Regions from separate parts of the Homo sapiens genome. Here region 1 is linked to region 2. A link means that fine-mapping ties the variant in region 2 to the plasma level of a protein whose gene starts in the linked region. Region 2 holds a variant in brackets. A gene starts in the other region. All regions are shown on their reverse strands.

Evidence for each region. PIP is the posterior inclusion probability: the model's chance that the variant is causal. Protein levels are from antibody-based Olink assays in UK Biobank. Linkage for the fine-mapping came from a reference panel and not from the study's own genotypes, which makes the PIPs less certain.
Region 1: MRC1 starts here. The variant in region 2 is fine-mapped to the plasma level of the MRC1 protein (UK Biobank, PIP above 0.99).

The regions. Positions count from the first base shown.
Region 1 is chr10:17,805,183-17,813,949 of GRCh38, reverse strand. It overlaps MRC1 (mannose receptor C-type 1), which reads right to left and starts at 4,602. Exons shown (of 30, transcript NM_002438.4): 1 at 4,424-4,602. The coding sequence starts at 4,484.
Region 2 is chr22:29,357,014-29,365,013 of GRCh38, reverse strand. AP1B1 (adaptor related protein complex 1 subunit beta 1) reads left to right here. Exons shown (of 23, transcript NM_001127.4): 3 at 1,908-2,013; 4 at 5,055-5,190; 5 at 6,043-6,288. Among named protein-coding and RNA genes, the nearest start is that of AP1B1, 28 kb to the left of the region's middle. The variant G/A (reference allele first, on the strand shown) is at 3,913.

The DNA.
Region 1 (8,767 bases), not on the chromosome of region 2:
AGGTGAGCAAATCACTTGAGCCTAGGAGTTTGAGACCAGCCTGGACAACATGGCAAAACCCCATCTCTACAAAAAAACACAAAAGTTAGCCAGGCATGGTGGCATGCACCTGTGGTGCCAGCTACTTAGGAGGCTGAGGTGGGAGAATCACTTGACCCCGGGAAGTCAAGGCTACAGTGAGCAATGATCATGCCACTGCACTCCAGCCTGGATGACAGAGTGAGACCCTGTCTCAAAAAAAAAAAAAAATATATATATATATATATAATGTGTGTGTGTGTGTGTGTATATATATATATGTATATATTTATATATATAAAATCTAGCCCTATGTTCCAAAGCATAAAAGTTAGCTCAGCCTTCTAGATACAAACACTGAGAAAGATGGAGAACAAATTTAAAAAGGAGAAAGGTGCTTGTATTTTTCTCCCACTTAATTCAGTTTTGTGAAAAAATACACTGAAGAATCAATATTTACCATAAGACATACATTTATATTGGAATCAAAGTTTTCAAGAGTGCTTGTGAAAAACCACTACTGTGATAATCACATGATAATAATTATCTTTCTTAGCATTTCAACGAGGGAAATGAAATAGAGGAGTATCAGGATTATACCATTAGCGTGATGTCTATGTCAGAACCACAGTTGGATCCCTTCCAGCCAAATGTGAGACCCGCAAATGGCAACAGGAATAACCTAATTTGCACTTACTTGATCTAACAGCGCAGCAAGAAATCTAAGGGGATGTGGAAAAGTACAAGCCGTTGAGCAAAGTCCTGGATCTACATCTACCTGCTAAACAGTCACCTTCTGGACATTTTACCTCCCTGAGCCTGGTGCTTCATCTATAAAATGATGATGTCAAAATGCATCATTTCCTAGTTTGTTCTTGCTTTAATGGTCTATGATTCTAAGGCTTCTCTGTCCACCAAGACGTCTCTCATTATCATTTTTTGCAGATGTTCTAGGCTTTTCATGATACTACCTGACCCACTGTTTGAGCGCCTTCCCAGAGCCTAGAAAGGCTCCATATTGCCCTGGGACCAATAGCAGCAGCTAGCAAGAGCCTATTGTTGGCCAGGTGTGGTGGCTCATGCCTGTAATGTCAGCACTTTGGGAGGCTAAGGTGGGCAGATCACGAGGTCAGGAGTTCAAGACCAGCCTGGCCAACATGGTGAAACCCCATCTCTACTAAAAATAGAAAAAATTAGCCGGGTGTGGTGGCGGGTGCCTGTAATCCCAGCTACTCGGGAGGCTGAGGCAGGAGAATTGCTTGAACCCACGAGGCAGAGGTTGCAGTGAGCCAAGATCACACCATTGCACTCAAGGCTGGGTGACAGAGAGAGACTCCATCTCAAAAAAAAAAAAAAAAAAAAAAGCCTACTGTTGGCATCTCTTCCCAACTCTGCCCCCAGGGGCATCAAGTCAGTAGCTTGAAATCAACCATGGTGGGAATATTTACAGCATGGACATCAGTAAACAGCAAAACAGCATAAGTCAAATCAGTGCTTCCTTTCTTTTCCTTCTTGGAACCAGTAGTTGTTTGCCAATACACCACTACCTGTGAGCCAAACCCTCCCATTTCCAAGTTAAACTTCTTTGCTGTGGTCTAACCTCTGTGTCCCACCGGCTCTCATGGTGCATCTACCATGATTATAACCCAACTGAGCTGGAAACCTTGCTGCTGAGTGCTAAAAAGATAGTGCGGCAAGAACAACAGTAGGAAAGGTGAGCGTCTAGCCCTGTTAACCTCTAGACTCCTGGACCCCTCCAGGGAGAACCAGCCCATCCGTTGGCAGCAGCCCACAGAGACTTATGGTGCTAATGCTGTGGGATGCTCTCCTGAAGGTGGAAGGAAGGGGTGTGGATTGAAAAGAAATAAACTGATGGCAAGTAGGGAGACCTTCCCATGGGTTTTCCTAGTGGGCAGGAAGCCAGGGGAGAGGTGTTGGGGCTTCGCATAGTTTAACCTGCTGCTAACTAAGCAGGTGCCCTGCCTTTACACAAATTCCTCCAATCACATGCTTCTCGGGCCAAGAAAAGATAAAATAAAAGTTACAGGCTGGGTGCAGTGGCTCACATCTATCATCCTGCACTATGGGAGGCCAAAGTGGGAGGATCACCAGAGCCCAGAAGTTTGAGATCGGCCTGAGCAAGATAGTGAGACCCCATCTCTACAAAAATAAAAAAAAATAAAAAAAATTAAAAATTAGCCTGGCATAGTGGCTCAAGCCCAAAGTCCCAGCTACTGGGGAGTTGGGAGTGGGCCAAGGTGGGAGGATTGCATGAGCCCAGATGTCAAGGCTGCAGTGAGCCATGATCACACCACTGCACTCCAGCCTGGGTGACAGAGTGAAACCAGTCTCAAAAAACAAAACAACACAAATTACAGGCTTTCACGTAGGAAAAAAAAATCTGGAAGGGGGGTCCCTTGAATTTTTTGTTTGTTTATTCTCCAAGTAAACAGATCTTCAGCATCCCCCTTCTCTCCCCAATATTTGTGCCTATGAAGAGGAAGACATTAGTCAGAGGAGGGCATCCTGCTGTCAGGAAGAGGGAAACACTCCTGAGCAAACCGAGAAACACTATTGCTCAAAGCATTATTGAGTCAGTTTAAAGAAAATTAGGCACTGTGTCTGTGCTGCCCAGTATGATAGCCAGTCACCTCATGTAACCATTGTACACTTAAAATGACACTACTGTGAATTGAGACATGCTATAAGTATGCAATACTCACCAGATTTTGAAGAGTTAGTTTTAAGAAATGAATGGGAAAATATTCCAAATCGATTAAATGTTGAGGGATAATATTTCCGAGTTACTGGGTGAAATAAAATACATTAATAATATCAGGGCTGGGCGCTGTGGCTCATGCCTATAATCCCAGCACTTTGGGAGGCTGAGGAGGGCAGATCACTTGAGGTCAGGAGTTCGAGGCCAGCCTGGCCAACATGGTGAAACGTTGTCTCTACTAAAACTACAAAAATCAGCTGGGCATGGTGGTGCATGCCTGTAATCCCAGCTACTTGGGAGGCCGAGGCAGGAGAATCACTCGAACCCAGGAAGTAGAGGTTGCAGTGAGCCAAGATCATGCCACTGCACTGCAGCCTGGGCAACAAAATGAGAATCTGTCTCAAAAATAAAAATAAAATTAATTTCATCTATCCTTTTTATTTGGCCTTTTATGTACTTCTTTTCTGCCACTGATTTTAATAGCTAACACTTATAAGGCACTTACTATGGGTCATACTCTGTTCTAAACATTTCACATATTGTTACTCATTGAATCATCACAAGAACTGATGGGGGCAGGTAATATTATTCTTTCCATTTTATAGACATGGAAACTAAAGCACAAAGAAATAAAGTAGCCTGCCCAAGGTCGCAAAGCTAGTGAGTGAGAGAGACAGGATGTAAACCATACCGCCTTCACTTGTGTTTTTGTAATCACTACCACTCAATACTTATGATTTAACATTTGCGGTACTAAAACACTCTCTTCCTAGGAAACTTCCCACCCGCCTTCACATCAGTGCATAGAGTAGATCGTAGGCACAAACCATTCTCTGCAAGTGTTTGTTGATTTCATAGAATTAAAGGGGGATCAGAAATCAAAAAATCAAATTTGAAATCTCTTCTAAATCATCTCCAAATAGAACCAGGAATGAAAATCCCCCGAGGCACTCCCATCCTGAAGTTTAAGCAACTGAGTATAGAGAAATAGAAAAGACAGACTGGAAAAGGTATTTGAGAATTTGAACAACTCTGGAGCTGTTCCTAATGAGTAATCTCTAATCTCCAGAAAAAGAAGAAAAACAGGAATCGATCTGCTTATGCGGCAGTTTGAATAGTCTAGAATACAGATAAGGATGAACTTTCTAACAATCAAGTGTCTGAATGATTCTGGCAGAAAAAAAAATGAGTATGGAAATTGCTTAGAATCTCTTTTGGGGGGATGATCTGCGATGATACCCTCGGACCTAAGACGCGGGGAGACATCAGGGCTGCCCTCCTTCCAGCCAGAGACACTCAGAAGGTGTTTGTTGGCGGTGAGACAGAAATAGTGTGAATTGAAAACCAGAAAGAGTAAACCACAGAGCAGGAAATTTCTGCACGAAGAAAACAGGGAAGGAACAACGAGCGATGAGAGAAGTCAGGAGGACACTGAAGGTCTGTAGGGTTCCCGGCAGGGCAGCAACCGAGACCTGAGACGCATCCTCCTCCCTCCTCCAACTCCAGGCCTCCCATGCCTGGCCGCCAGGTGAAGGCAGCAGGCTTAGCCGTGGACTGCGTGGTGCAGGGGAACCCCGTTTCCTCCTCACAAAGATGTTGAAAGGAACCCATTCACAGTAACCCAGAAGAGGAAGGTGTGGTTCCGGCCCCCCAGGTCAGAGATCCCCTGCCTCAGAGCAGACTTACCCAGTAGGAGAACAGCACCCGGAATGACAGAGGCAAAAACCAGGAGCAGGGGTAGCCTCATGGCCCAGGGTTTATCCTTTCCTTCTCCTGATGGACAGGAGGGCGGAACTAAGACGCAAAACAACGAGGCCCCCCAACTGCCTCTCCACCTAATCCAAGTTCCCAGAGCTGCCCAGCTGAAAAGAACTACAGAGGAAGCCCTCCCTTTTAAAGGGCTCCTGAATTTAGGGAAAGCCTCTACTGAGGAGACATCCTGTCACATGAGGGTGGCTGGAAAAACAGGAATTCAAAGTAACAACTTTGCTTCGTAAGCTAACTTCTGAGAAGAGCAGACGCAGAGGAAGGGGAGAAAGGGACACGTGTGGGAGAGGAGTGGCGGGGTGGGGAGGAGAGAGGGCGATGGTGATGGTGAGGAGTCAGGAAGGAGAGAAGTGAAACAGCCTGGGAGCTCCCGGCCTGCTCAGATGGGGCTGGGTGGAGATCAAGCTGCAGGCCATTACCTGTGCCGGAAGACGGAGCTTCCCCTGGGAAGCAGCTGAGTCAGGGGTCCCTCAGCAGACAACCTCCACTCTGAAGTGACAGCCACACGGGCCCTGGAAAGGACAGTTTTACGCTGGAAACACTTCAGAGTTGAAGCTCATCCCCTTCAGTTTCCACATTCAGTGCTTAGAGCCTTTCTTTTTTTTCTTGGAAAGTTTCAACAGAAAGTTCCGTGGAGCTTCATTTCCTCCAGGCAGAAGAAAAGTGAAAAGGAGGCTACACCTAAGAGGGAATGTCAGTCAGGCCAGGAAGGAGAAAGTTCTAGAAACCTTTTGCTAGAACGTTCTCTAGAAAGCCAGAAAAAACAGTGGTAAAGGATTTGCAGTAAAGCCTTGCTGCCCAGCCTCAACCATCCCGGTCCTCTTCAAGTTTAAGTGGGTCCCCTTGCTAGAAAAAGAAAATCTGGCCAGGCACAATGGCTCACGCCTGCAATCCCAGCAGTTTGGGAGGCCGAGGCAGTCAGATCACCCGAGGTCAGGAGTTTGAAACCAGCCTGGTCAACATGGCAAAAACCCGTCTCTACTAAAAATACAAAAGTTAGCCGGGTGTGATCATGCACACCTGTAAGCCCAGCTACTCAGGAGGCTGAGGCAACAGAATCGTTTGAACCTGGGAAGTGGAAGTTACAGTGAGTCAGGATCGCACCACTACACTCCAGCCTGGGCGACAGACGCGAAACTCCATCTCAAAAAAAAAAAAGAAAAGAAAAAAAAGAAAAAGAAAATCTGATTGTTTGGTCAAAAGGTATATCTTTATTTAAAGGCAAGTGGAATTCTTTCTTAGAATAAAATATGTTTCTAGATCTTTCATTAAGCAGAAAATAACCCTCCAAACATTTATGTTGTCATTTTTCAAAAGTAGAACAGGAATTTAGAACATTTTAAAGCAGAAACTAACGATTAGCTGGCCAAACCGTTACTAGAGTGTGGAATATGTTAGTAATTCAAAAAGAAGCTACTGGAAACATTGTAATTTTTAAAATTTTTTAAATGAATAGTTTTATCTTCAAACGGAAAGCCTCCACATTCGTTGTCTTTGTGATAAAGTTGAAAAGTTTCCATCCTATTAGAAATGTGATGTAGTTCTCTTACTGATTGTTTTTAACATGTAAATTTGAGATTATCCTGACCGGAGGGAAAAAGATAGTGAAAATGTAGGACAGAGGACCAAAGTTTCTTTGTCACTAAGGCTGTACATGACTGAAAAAAAAAATGATGGTTATAGAACAGAACAGACAAAACAAAAATGTTTCTCAGACATTGTTTCACTGGCTTATGAAAATAATAGTTTAAATGGGTCATTTGTGGCTTTCAAATATAAATAAATCATATACAAAAGTGACTGCCTAATTTACATTTATATATATTTCAGAAGCAAATACATTTAATTGAATTATGTATATAATCACATTCAGGGTTGGTTTGTTTCTTTGAGACAGAGTCTTGCTCTGTCGCCCAGGCTGGAGTGCAGTGGTGCAATCTGGGCTCACTGCAACCTCCACCTCCCGGGTTCAAGCGATTCTCCTACCTCAGCCTCCCAAGTGGCTGGGATTACAGGCGCGTGCCATGATGCCCAGCTATTTTTTGCATTTTTAGTATAGACGGGGTTTCACCATGTTGGCCAGGCTGGTCTCAAACCCCTGACCTCAAGTGATCCGCCCGCCTTGGCCTCTGAAAGTGCTGGGATTACAGACGTGTGCCACCATACCTGGCCCAGGGTTTGTTTTTTAATTACATAAGTGTGTATATCACATTAGTAAAATTAAAAATTAGGATCAGTACTAAAATCTGTGAAGTTTAAACAAAATGCAGCCAACCACCCCACAAAGAATTTACCCCATGACCTTGACCTCGTTGAAACAAAGATTTATCAGGCTACAAGAGGCCACTGGGGCAAAAAATAAATCCAAATCTTGGGGAAGGGATGTCACAGAAGATGGTGGTGTGGGAAACTCCAGGAATTCATCCCTCCATCTAAGCAGCCATCAAATGGACAGGAACTGACTGAAGTAACTGCAGGTGCTCCTCTACTCATGATCAAATTAGGCCCTGTTAAACCCAATGTGAGTTGAAATATGCTAAGTCAAAAATGCACTTAATACACCTGACCTACCAAACATCACGGCTCAGCGTAGCCTACCTTAAACGTGTTGAGAACACTTACATTAGCTTCCAACTGGGCAAAATTGATAGGGACAGGAGGCAGAGAAGTGCTAGGTAGAGAAGGGCAGGATCCCTGGCGAGGGCTCCACCCTCGGACCTGTGCCCACGGACCTAAGTGGGAACAGGCACTCCTGTTTTCATGCGCAAATGTTACATTTCCAAGACCACTATGATTCACCACACCCCGCATCCTGTGCCCATAAAAACCTGAGACCTTAATGGGCATAGACACAAGCGCTAAACATTGAGAAGAGTGAAGGAATAGAGCAGTGGAGAGCAGTGGGGTGGCGCAGCAGAGAAAGAGAGAAGAAGGACATCTGGACACCAAGGGGAGTTTGGCCAGCAGTGGTTGGAGAATAGTCTGGGGGGTTAGGCAGCCTGGCTCCAGGGGAAGACCACCTTCCCACTCCACTCCCCACTTCCAGTTCCCCATCCATCTCGCTGAGAGCCACCTACACCACTCAATAAAACCTTGCACTCAACCCTCCAGCCCACATGTGATCTGATTCTTCCAGTACACTGGGCAAGAACTCAGGCTGTCACACTGCCTCCCTGTCCTTGTGATAAGGCAGAGGGTCTATTGAGCTGACTAACACAAGCTGTCTGCAGATGGTATAGCTGAAAGAGCACACTGTAACACACGCCCACTTGGGCTTCAGGAGTCCTAGATGCTGCCGTGGGGTGGAGCCCAAAAGCACTCCCCACAGCCTCTGCACCTGCCCATCTGCATGCTGCATGCTCCCCCCTAGGGGTTTGAGCAGCAGGGCACCAAAGGAGCAAGCCTCATTCCTGTCGCACCCCCTGCGAGGGTCATAAGGGAACTCTTCTATTTCAAAATCATCTAACAAAACCTATTTTATAATACAGTGTTGAGTATCTCGTAATTTATTGGATATGGTACTAAAAGTGAGAAGCAGAATGGGTGTATGGGTATTCGAAATACATTTTCTACTGAATGCACCATTTCTATTTCACATCATCATAAAGTGGGTAAATCATTATGTCTAACAATCCTAAGTCAAGGACCATCTGTATTTGGGAACTAGTCTAGTCAGAAACTTGGAGCATCCAAGGGAGAGCTTGATAAAGAGGCTGGTACATTTCAGCGAATTTCAGCTTCTCCCTGTGGTTATGGCTGTGTCAGGCAGCTGTGAAGGGGGAAGCAGCCCACACGCCCAGTGCAGCTAGGTGAGGCCAGGCCGGGCAACAAGGATTTAGCCCTCCAAATGTCAGGACTGTGTGTTCTGATTGGTGCTTTTATTTGCTTTCATCACTTCTCTTCAACTTAGTACTGGAAGTTCTAATAAGAGCATGTAGGAAAGAAAAAAATAAATAAAAGCATCCAAATTAAAAAGGAAGAAGTGAAATTATCTCTGTACACAGATGGCCTGATTTTAAATGTAGGAAGTCCTAAAGCTTACACACACACACACACACACACACCACACACAAATACCACATACACATACACAATAGACACATACACACCACACACACACACCACACACACATACATACACACGCCACACACACACACATACACACCACACACACAAACTGTAGCACTAACAAATTTAACAAAGTTGCAGGACACAAAATCAAAACACAAAAATCAGTTGAATTTTGATACACTTGTAATGAA
Region 2 (8,000 bases):
AGAGGGGCCGGGCATGGTGGCTCAGGCCTGTAGTCTCAACACTTTGGGAGGCTGAGGCGGGTGGATCACCTGAGGTCAGGAGTTTGAGACCAGCCGGGCCAACATGGTGAAACCCCGTCTCTACTAAAAATACAAAAATTAGGAGGGTTTGATGGTGTCCGCCTATAGTTCCAGCTATTTGGGAGGCTGAGGCAGCAGAATTGCTTGAACCCGGGAGGCGGAAGTTGCGGTGAGCCGAGATCGCACCGCTGCACTCCAGCCTGGGTGACAGAGTGAGACTATGTCTCAAAAAAAAAAAATGGCCGGGCGTGGTGGCTCATGCCTGTAATCCCAGTGCTTTGGGAGACCAAGGCGGGCGGATCACGAGATCAGTTCAAGACCAGCCTGACCAACATGGTGAAACCCCGTCTGTACTAAAAATACAAAAATTAGCTGGGTGTGATGGCGCACGCCTGTAGTCCCAGCTACCCGGTATGCTGAGGCAGGAGAATTGCTGGAACCCAGGAGGCAGAAGTTGCAGTGAGCTGAGATGGGGCCACTGCACTCCAGCATGGGTGACAGAGCAAGACTCTGTCTCAAAAAAATAAAAAATAAAAGAGAAGGGGTCAGGAAATGACATCTGCCCTCCTAACCTGTTATCAGGGTCCTGACTATCTGTCCATGGCAGGGCCAGACAACCCTGCTTCCTCATTTGTTTTTTTCATGTCATGAAGTTCTTCAGAACAATTGATTTCATGCTTGAGCTCTCATGGAGCAGCTGAATTCCTGTTTTCAGAGCTGAGCAACCAACCACTTGTGTCTCAGGAAGTGAAACCCTGAACAAGCTGTTTTAATTAGAGGTTTGAGGAAAACAGGAAAGGCCTTCATGTGGGAATCCACAAATCCTGCTCTCACCCCGCAAGCCTTAAGTACTCAGGTTCTATTGCACTGAGCCTTTTAAGGGTCTTTTGTTGAGTGAGGGTAGCTGAGGACAGCTTTGCCTTCCACTGGGGTTTTAGCTCCCTGGCTGAGCAGAGCCTGCCATCATGTTTTTGATGCTTTTGTCTTCCTCAGAACCTTTGTAGCTTCCATGGTTCCTGTTGCTTCAATCCAGAGTGGCCTCTAAACTTTTTTTTTTTGGAGACAGGATCTCACTTTGTGTCCCCCAGGCTGGAGTGTAGTGGTGTCATGGCTCACGGCAACCTCGATCTCTGGGCTCAAACGATTCTTCAGCCTCAGCCTCCAGAGTAGCTGGCACGGCAGGCACATGCCACCACACCCGGCTAATTAAAAAAAATTATTTTGTAGAAACGAGGTCTCACTATGTTACCCAGGCTGATCTCAAACTCCTGAGCTCAAGTAATCCTCAGCCTCTTTTTTTTTTTTTGAGATGGAGTCTTGGCCCTGTCGCCAGGCTGGAGTGCAGTGGCGCCATCTTGCCTCACTGCAACCTCCACCTCCCGGATTCAAGCAATTCCCCTGCCTCAGCCTCCCGAGTAGCTGGGATTACAGGCACGCGCCACTATGCCCGGCTAATTTTTTGTATTTTAATAGAGACAAGGTTTCACTATGTTGGCCAGGATGGTCTTGATCTTCTGACCTCGTGATCCGCCTGCCTCGGACTCCCAAAGTGCTGGGATTACAGGCATGAGCCACTGTGCTGGCCAATCCTCAGCATTTTAAAGTGCTGGGATTACAGGTATGAGCGACTGCACCCGGCCTACAAGTTTCCATCTTGTTAATTCCTGTCCTAACAGTCATCCCTCACTGTTGCCTGGCCCACCTGAGGCCAGGCGCCTGAAGCTTCCCTCAGCCAACAGCATAGGATGTCTTACGTGCCTCCCTCCGGTTCTTTTGGAAGTTAGATACTGGGAATTGTCCCCTGCCAGGGTAGGGAGGGATCACTCATGCTTGCCTCCTTTCCTTAGGGGAGATCTTCGAGCTGAAGGCAGAGCTCAACAGTGACAAGAAGGAGAAGAAGAAGGAGGCAGTGAAGAAAGTGATTGCATCGATGACCGTGGGCAAAGATGTCAGGTGTGCAGGAGTAGGCCTGGTGGCAGCTAGAAGCTGGCTGACAGGGGAGGGTTTATAGCTTGGGTCCACTTCAGTCTCTCCTTTAGGGTGTCTAGGGACCCATGTCTCCCCTCATACAGCTCCCTTCATAAAACTTTCTTCCCAATAGAAGGTTTTGTTTACACAGGAATCATGAGCCCAGACACTGACAGGTCAGGTGGTTATGGAGTGAGTTAACTGGAGTAGGTGGGAAAGGCAGCAGGCAATGGAGTGGGTGTGGCATGAACCCTCTCAGAAACTCCAGAGGATCAGTACTGGCTGGGGAAGAGGACCCAGTGTGGCCAGGTCTTCTGGTTTTTAAAAGAATGGGAAATCTGGGCCAGGCGCGGTGGCTCACGCCTGTAATCCTAGCACTTGGGGAGGCCCAGGCGGGCGGATCTCGAGGTCAGGAGTTCGACACCAGCCTGGCCAATATGGTGATATCCTGTCTCTACTAAAAATACAAAAAGTAGCCGGGCATGGTGGCGCATGCCTGTAGTCTCAGCTACTCGGGAGGCTGAGGCAGGAGAATTGCTTGAACCTGGGAGACACAGGGTGCATTCAGCTGAGATTGTGCCACTGCAGTCCAGCCCAGGTGACAGAGCGAGACTCAGTCTCAAAAAAAAAAAAAGAAGAATGGGAAATCTGGATTTTTCATTTTAAATCTCCCTGTCTTAAGTGGCCAGATGATATTAAACAAACACTGTGTGGTGCAAGTAAAACACACGTGCAGATTGGATTTCTCTAATTTGTCACCGGTGTGCAGCCTCTGTCGCACCTGATGGCTAAAGCCGGTTGTGTGTAGAGCGGCTGCCGCACCTTGGCTCATGCTTCCCCTGTGGGAGCGCCCAGTGACCCAGCTTGTCTTCCCATCTTTAAAAACCCATTCGAGGCCGGATGTGGTGGCTCACACCTGTAATCCTAGCACTTTGGGAGGCCGAGGCGGGTGGATCACGAGGTCAGGAGTTCAAGACCAGCCTGGCCAACATGGTGAAACCCCGTCTCTACTAAAAATACAAAAATTAGCCAAGCGTGGTGGTGGGCACCTGTAATCCCAGCTACTTGGGAGGCTGAGGCAGAGAATTGCTGGAACCTGGGAGGCAGAGGCTGCAGTGAGCCAAGATCACGCCACTGCACTCCAGCCTGGGCAACAGAGCAAGACTCCATCTCAAAAAAAAAAAACATTCAAGGTCTGCCTTCCCTGTGTTTCCTTCCCTGATCACCCCAGCCCACTACCTCAAACTCAAAGCATTTGCTGTCTGTTCCCATCACCCAGCACTAAATGGAAACTGTTCTCTTGTTATGTGTACTTGTGTTTACCTGCTCACCAGATTGTAAAATCTCAAAGGCAGAGACTGGATTTTAAAACAGCTTGATATTTGCACAGTATTTGAGAGTCTGCACAGAACATTTTGAGATTTGTTTTCTCAGTAGTTCCTTACAATTCCCATATTGTAGGTAATGACAGTTTTACTGCCAAAGAAATAAAAACATAAAGTGACTGCCTAAGAGTCACATGGTTTATGGCAGAACTAGGACTCAAGCCCAGTTCTTCTGAAATCCAAATCCAGGCCACTTTCACCCATGCCCTCGTGGTGCCCAGCCCTGTGCCTCATAACCCGGGTGCTGAGGTGGAGCAGCTCCCATCCAGGTCCCAAGATAGGCTCCCACTGCTCCAGACGTCCCCATGGATCGCCCCCCAAGCAAAGGACCTCCTGCCAGCAGCTCCGGGAAGGGGCTCTGCAGAGAGCCCTTTGGAAGCCAGAGCAGAAAGGAAACAGGTACCTGCTGGACAACTGGGCCTCCTTCCAAGTCAGATTCCTTCCAGGACAAAGCTGCTCTCCTTCACCCAGCACACCACTGTCACCTCCTCACAGAGGA[G/A]AAACATCTTTGTTCTTCCATCTCAAAAGAGCTGGCTTTGCTGATATGATAAGCCCCAAAGAGCGAGTCGGCCTCATCAGCAGTTTTTCCTCCTCCCTCCTCCCCATTCTTCCTGGTGCATCATCTTCCAAGGTGACACATAAATTTTGGCTTTGGCAGGACTCCTGCCTGTTGGGGATCAGGAAGTTCACTTTGACCTCCTAAGTCTCTATGTTGACACGTCCTTTCCTATAAACACATAAGAATTGAGAGGGGATATGATGATTTCAGAGATAGAAAATTGATCTCTAACCAAATTTCACATCTTAAGAAGGCCTGTGACTCTGGGACCACGGGTACCATGTTGAGAAGGGTTCCACCCAGTGGTCATGAGCACGGACCTTGTTCTCAGACCTGATTCCTCCAGGCAGGTTATTTGACATTTATGAACCTCAGTGTTCTCTGAAATGGGGATCATCCCCTGACTTCTGAGGGCAGTTAAATGAGATCAAGCATGTAAAGCTCTTAGCACCAAGCCTGGTGTATGGTGTGTGCTCCATGCATGCTGTGCTGGTTCTTACCGGGTGCCAGAGCTTGTGGAGAAAGCAGCATGAGCCATCCTGCTTCCCTGCGACCCTCCAGAACCAGCAGCCCAATGTAAGGGGCCACATTAAGTATCAGAGAGGGAGAAAGGATCATTTTCATTTACTCAGCATCTCCCAGATATCAAGGACCAGATACCTAAGTATGTTGTCTCATTCAGTTATCATAAAGGCCCTGTGAAGTGAGTTTCTGTTGCGTCTTTCTTGGAAGTTAGAAAATTGAGACTCAGGGCGAGGGGGCAGGTGACAAAGGAATTTCTCCAATGTCATATAGCTAGCAAGAGGCAGTGGTGGGTTTGATGGGCTCCAGAACTCATGTTTGAACTATATGAAAAGAATCAAGGACTTTCCTGCTTTTAAAATTACCCTTTGGGATTCCCTTTCTATCAATAGGTGTTGATTGTTAACAGCAGACCTGAAACCCTCCCTTTTACCAGGAAGTCCAGTGTGTCTCTCCTTTCTCTCCTACCCACTGTCCTCTCACCCACTAGTTAGCAGCCTGAAAATCTTCCTCTTCCTTTGTTCAGCCTTTCCCATGCTGACACCATTTTGACCTTCCAGTGCCCTCTTCCCCGATGTGGTCAACTGCATGCAGACGGACAACCTGGAGCTGAAGAAGCTAGTATACCTCTACTTGATGAATTACGCCAAGAGTCAGCCTGACATGGCCATTATGGCCGTCAACACCTTTGTGAAGGTGAGCAGACGCTTGGTGGGCGTGGGGACATTGGGTGCTTAAGGCTCTGTCTCCCCTCAGTCTCTTTGGGGCGGGGCCCTGTGGCACTGGATGGAGTCCAGACCTTCAGACTGCCCGCGCCCGCCCAGCCTGCAGGCCTCTTCCTCCAGCAGAGGGCTCCCACTCTCCAGAAAATCAGATGCTAAGGACCCTGCGTAACTCATCCTGTGTGAGGTCCTGCCAGGCCTGTTGATCCCCTCACTGCCCTGATTGGACCCTGCCCTGCATGCTTTGCTAGGGCAGGAATCAGCAGGTGCCCGAGAGCTTCTCTGTTGCCCTTACAGACTGCTGCTTTCTCCATTTTCTGTCCTTCAGATTAAATTGTCAGCTCTGTGCACCTATATTTTAATTTTATTTTCTCCTAATGTTCAGTACCTCTGAATTTGTATACCTTTAGAACCTTAGCTCCCCTGAGTCCTGTCCGTGCTCGGATATGGGGAAATGAGGCTTCTGTGGCCCAGTGGAAAGACCGAGGGCTGTGATGCTAGGTGGATGTGGGTTTGAATCACGGCTCTGCTCTGTGGCTTCAGATGAGCTCCTAGCCTTTCTGAGAGCCTCAGTTTCATCATCTATAAAATGGGACCCGTATTGTATTTCTACTGTGAGGATCAGAGGAGATGGTGTGCAGAGCTGGCATGGGTGCTGGTTATATAGCATTTACTTTTGCTGTTGTTGGCTGTAGTTGGTGAAGATCCACAGCAGCCATCTGATGTCGCTCAGCCTAGCAGGGCTCAGAGCTGCAGGCCAGGGAGAATATGAAGCCACAGATGGCTCATCCCACCCCTGCCCTGGCCGATGGCTGGTTCCCCCCAGGACTGTGAGGACCCCAACCCCCTCATCCGAGCCCTGGCAGTGCGGACCATGGGCTGCATCCGCGTTGACAAGATCACAGAGTACCTGTGCGAGCCACTCCGGAAGTGCCTGAAGGACGAGGATCCATATGTGCGCAAGACAGCAGCTGTGTGCGTGGCCAAGCTCCACGACATCAACGCCCAGCTGGTGGAGGACCAGGGCTTCCTGGACACCCTTAAAGACCTCATCTCCGACTCTAACCCCATGGTAAGCCACTGCCACCCACCGTGCTACCTCCACCACCTCCTGGGTTGCTTGGGAAGACATTGGCTTGACTCTTCACCAGGCAGTCCTGAGTACCTAGAAGTCGGAGCCTGGCTGGGGGTGCCAGTTGTTCTTGTGCCTTTTGGTGGTTCAGGCACCCTCTCTGGAGGGAGCTAGACCTAGATTCCCTTCTCCTCACCCTCTGACTAGCTGCGCAACCTGGGGCAAGCTGCCTAGGCTCTCTTTTCTTCATCAGTGAGATGGATCTCATTCTACGTGGCTGGCAGGAGTGCTGTGAAGGTGACGTGCCTGGGATGGCCTGGTAACGGTGCACCATCAATACTAGTGCCCTCCTTCCCCTTCTAGTCACTGTTATTGTTGCTGTCTTCTCACCAAGCCAATATGCTGCATGTGTGGTGCTTTTCCCTTCCCCCATCTTTGTTGGGTTGTAGAGGGTCACCCTTGAAGTAGCATAGCCTGGAAGACAGGACATCAGGATGTAGCTGGATGTGGAACCCCACAGTCCCCTTACCCACAATGGTGGCAGCAGTTTGGAGGGCAGTTTGGCAGGGCCTGTTTAAAATGAATGCACAAACCCAGCCATTCCCCACTCTGAGCAGAAACACTGAGCAACTGCCATACACAGTACTGAGCGGCCAGTACAGGGATGGGTACTGGAGCACTGGATGGTTCACAGAGAAAAGTTGGAAACAATGCAGAACACCCTTAAAAACAGCTGCCTGGGCCGGGTGCAGTGGCTCACGCCTGTAATCCCAGCACTTTGGGAGGCTGAGGTGGGTGGATTACGAGGTCAGGAGATTGAGACCATCCTGGCCAACATGGTGAAACCCCATCTCTACTCAAAATACAAAAATTAGCCGGGTGTGGTGGCATGTGCCTGTAATCCCAGCTACTCAGGAGGCTGAAGCAGGAGAATCACTTGTACCCAGGAAGTCGGAGGTTGCAGTGAGCTAAGACTGCGTCACTGTACTCCAGCCTGGCGACAGAGCTAGACTCCGTCTCAAAAAAAAAAAAAAAAACAGCTGCCTGAGGCCGCGCGCAGTGGCTCATACAGGATTACATGCCTGTAATCCCAGCTATTTGGGAGGCTGAGGCGGGTGGATCACCTGAGGTCAGGAATTCAAGACCAGCCTGGCCAACATAGTGAAACCCTGTCTCTACTAAAAATATAAAAATTAGCTGGGCATGGTGGTGCGTGCCTGTAATCTCAGCTACCTGGGAGGCTGAGGCAGGAGGATTGCTTGAGCCCAGGAGGCAGAGGTTGCAGTAAGCCAAGATTGCACCACTACACTCCAGACTGGGCAACACAGTGAGACTCAATCTCAAAAACAACAAAAACAAGCTATGTGCAGTGGCTCACGCCTATAATCCTAGCACTTTGGGAGGTTGAGGTGGGAGGATCACCTGAGGTCAGGAGTCTGAGACTAGCCTGGCCAACATGGCGAAACCCCATCTCTACTAAAAATACAAAAATCAGCTGAGTGTGGTGGTGCATGCCTGTAATCAGTCCCAGCTACTCGGGAGGCTGAGGCATGAGAATCACTTGAACCCAAGAGGTGGAGGTTGCAGTGAGCTGAGATCACACCACTGCACTGCAACCTGGGCGACAGAGCACAACTCCATCTCAAAAAAAAAAAACAAAAAACAAAAAAAAACACCTTCCTAGTGGAAATGGATTGAGGGCCTGGAGCTTC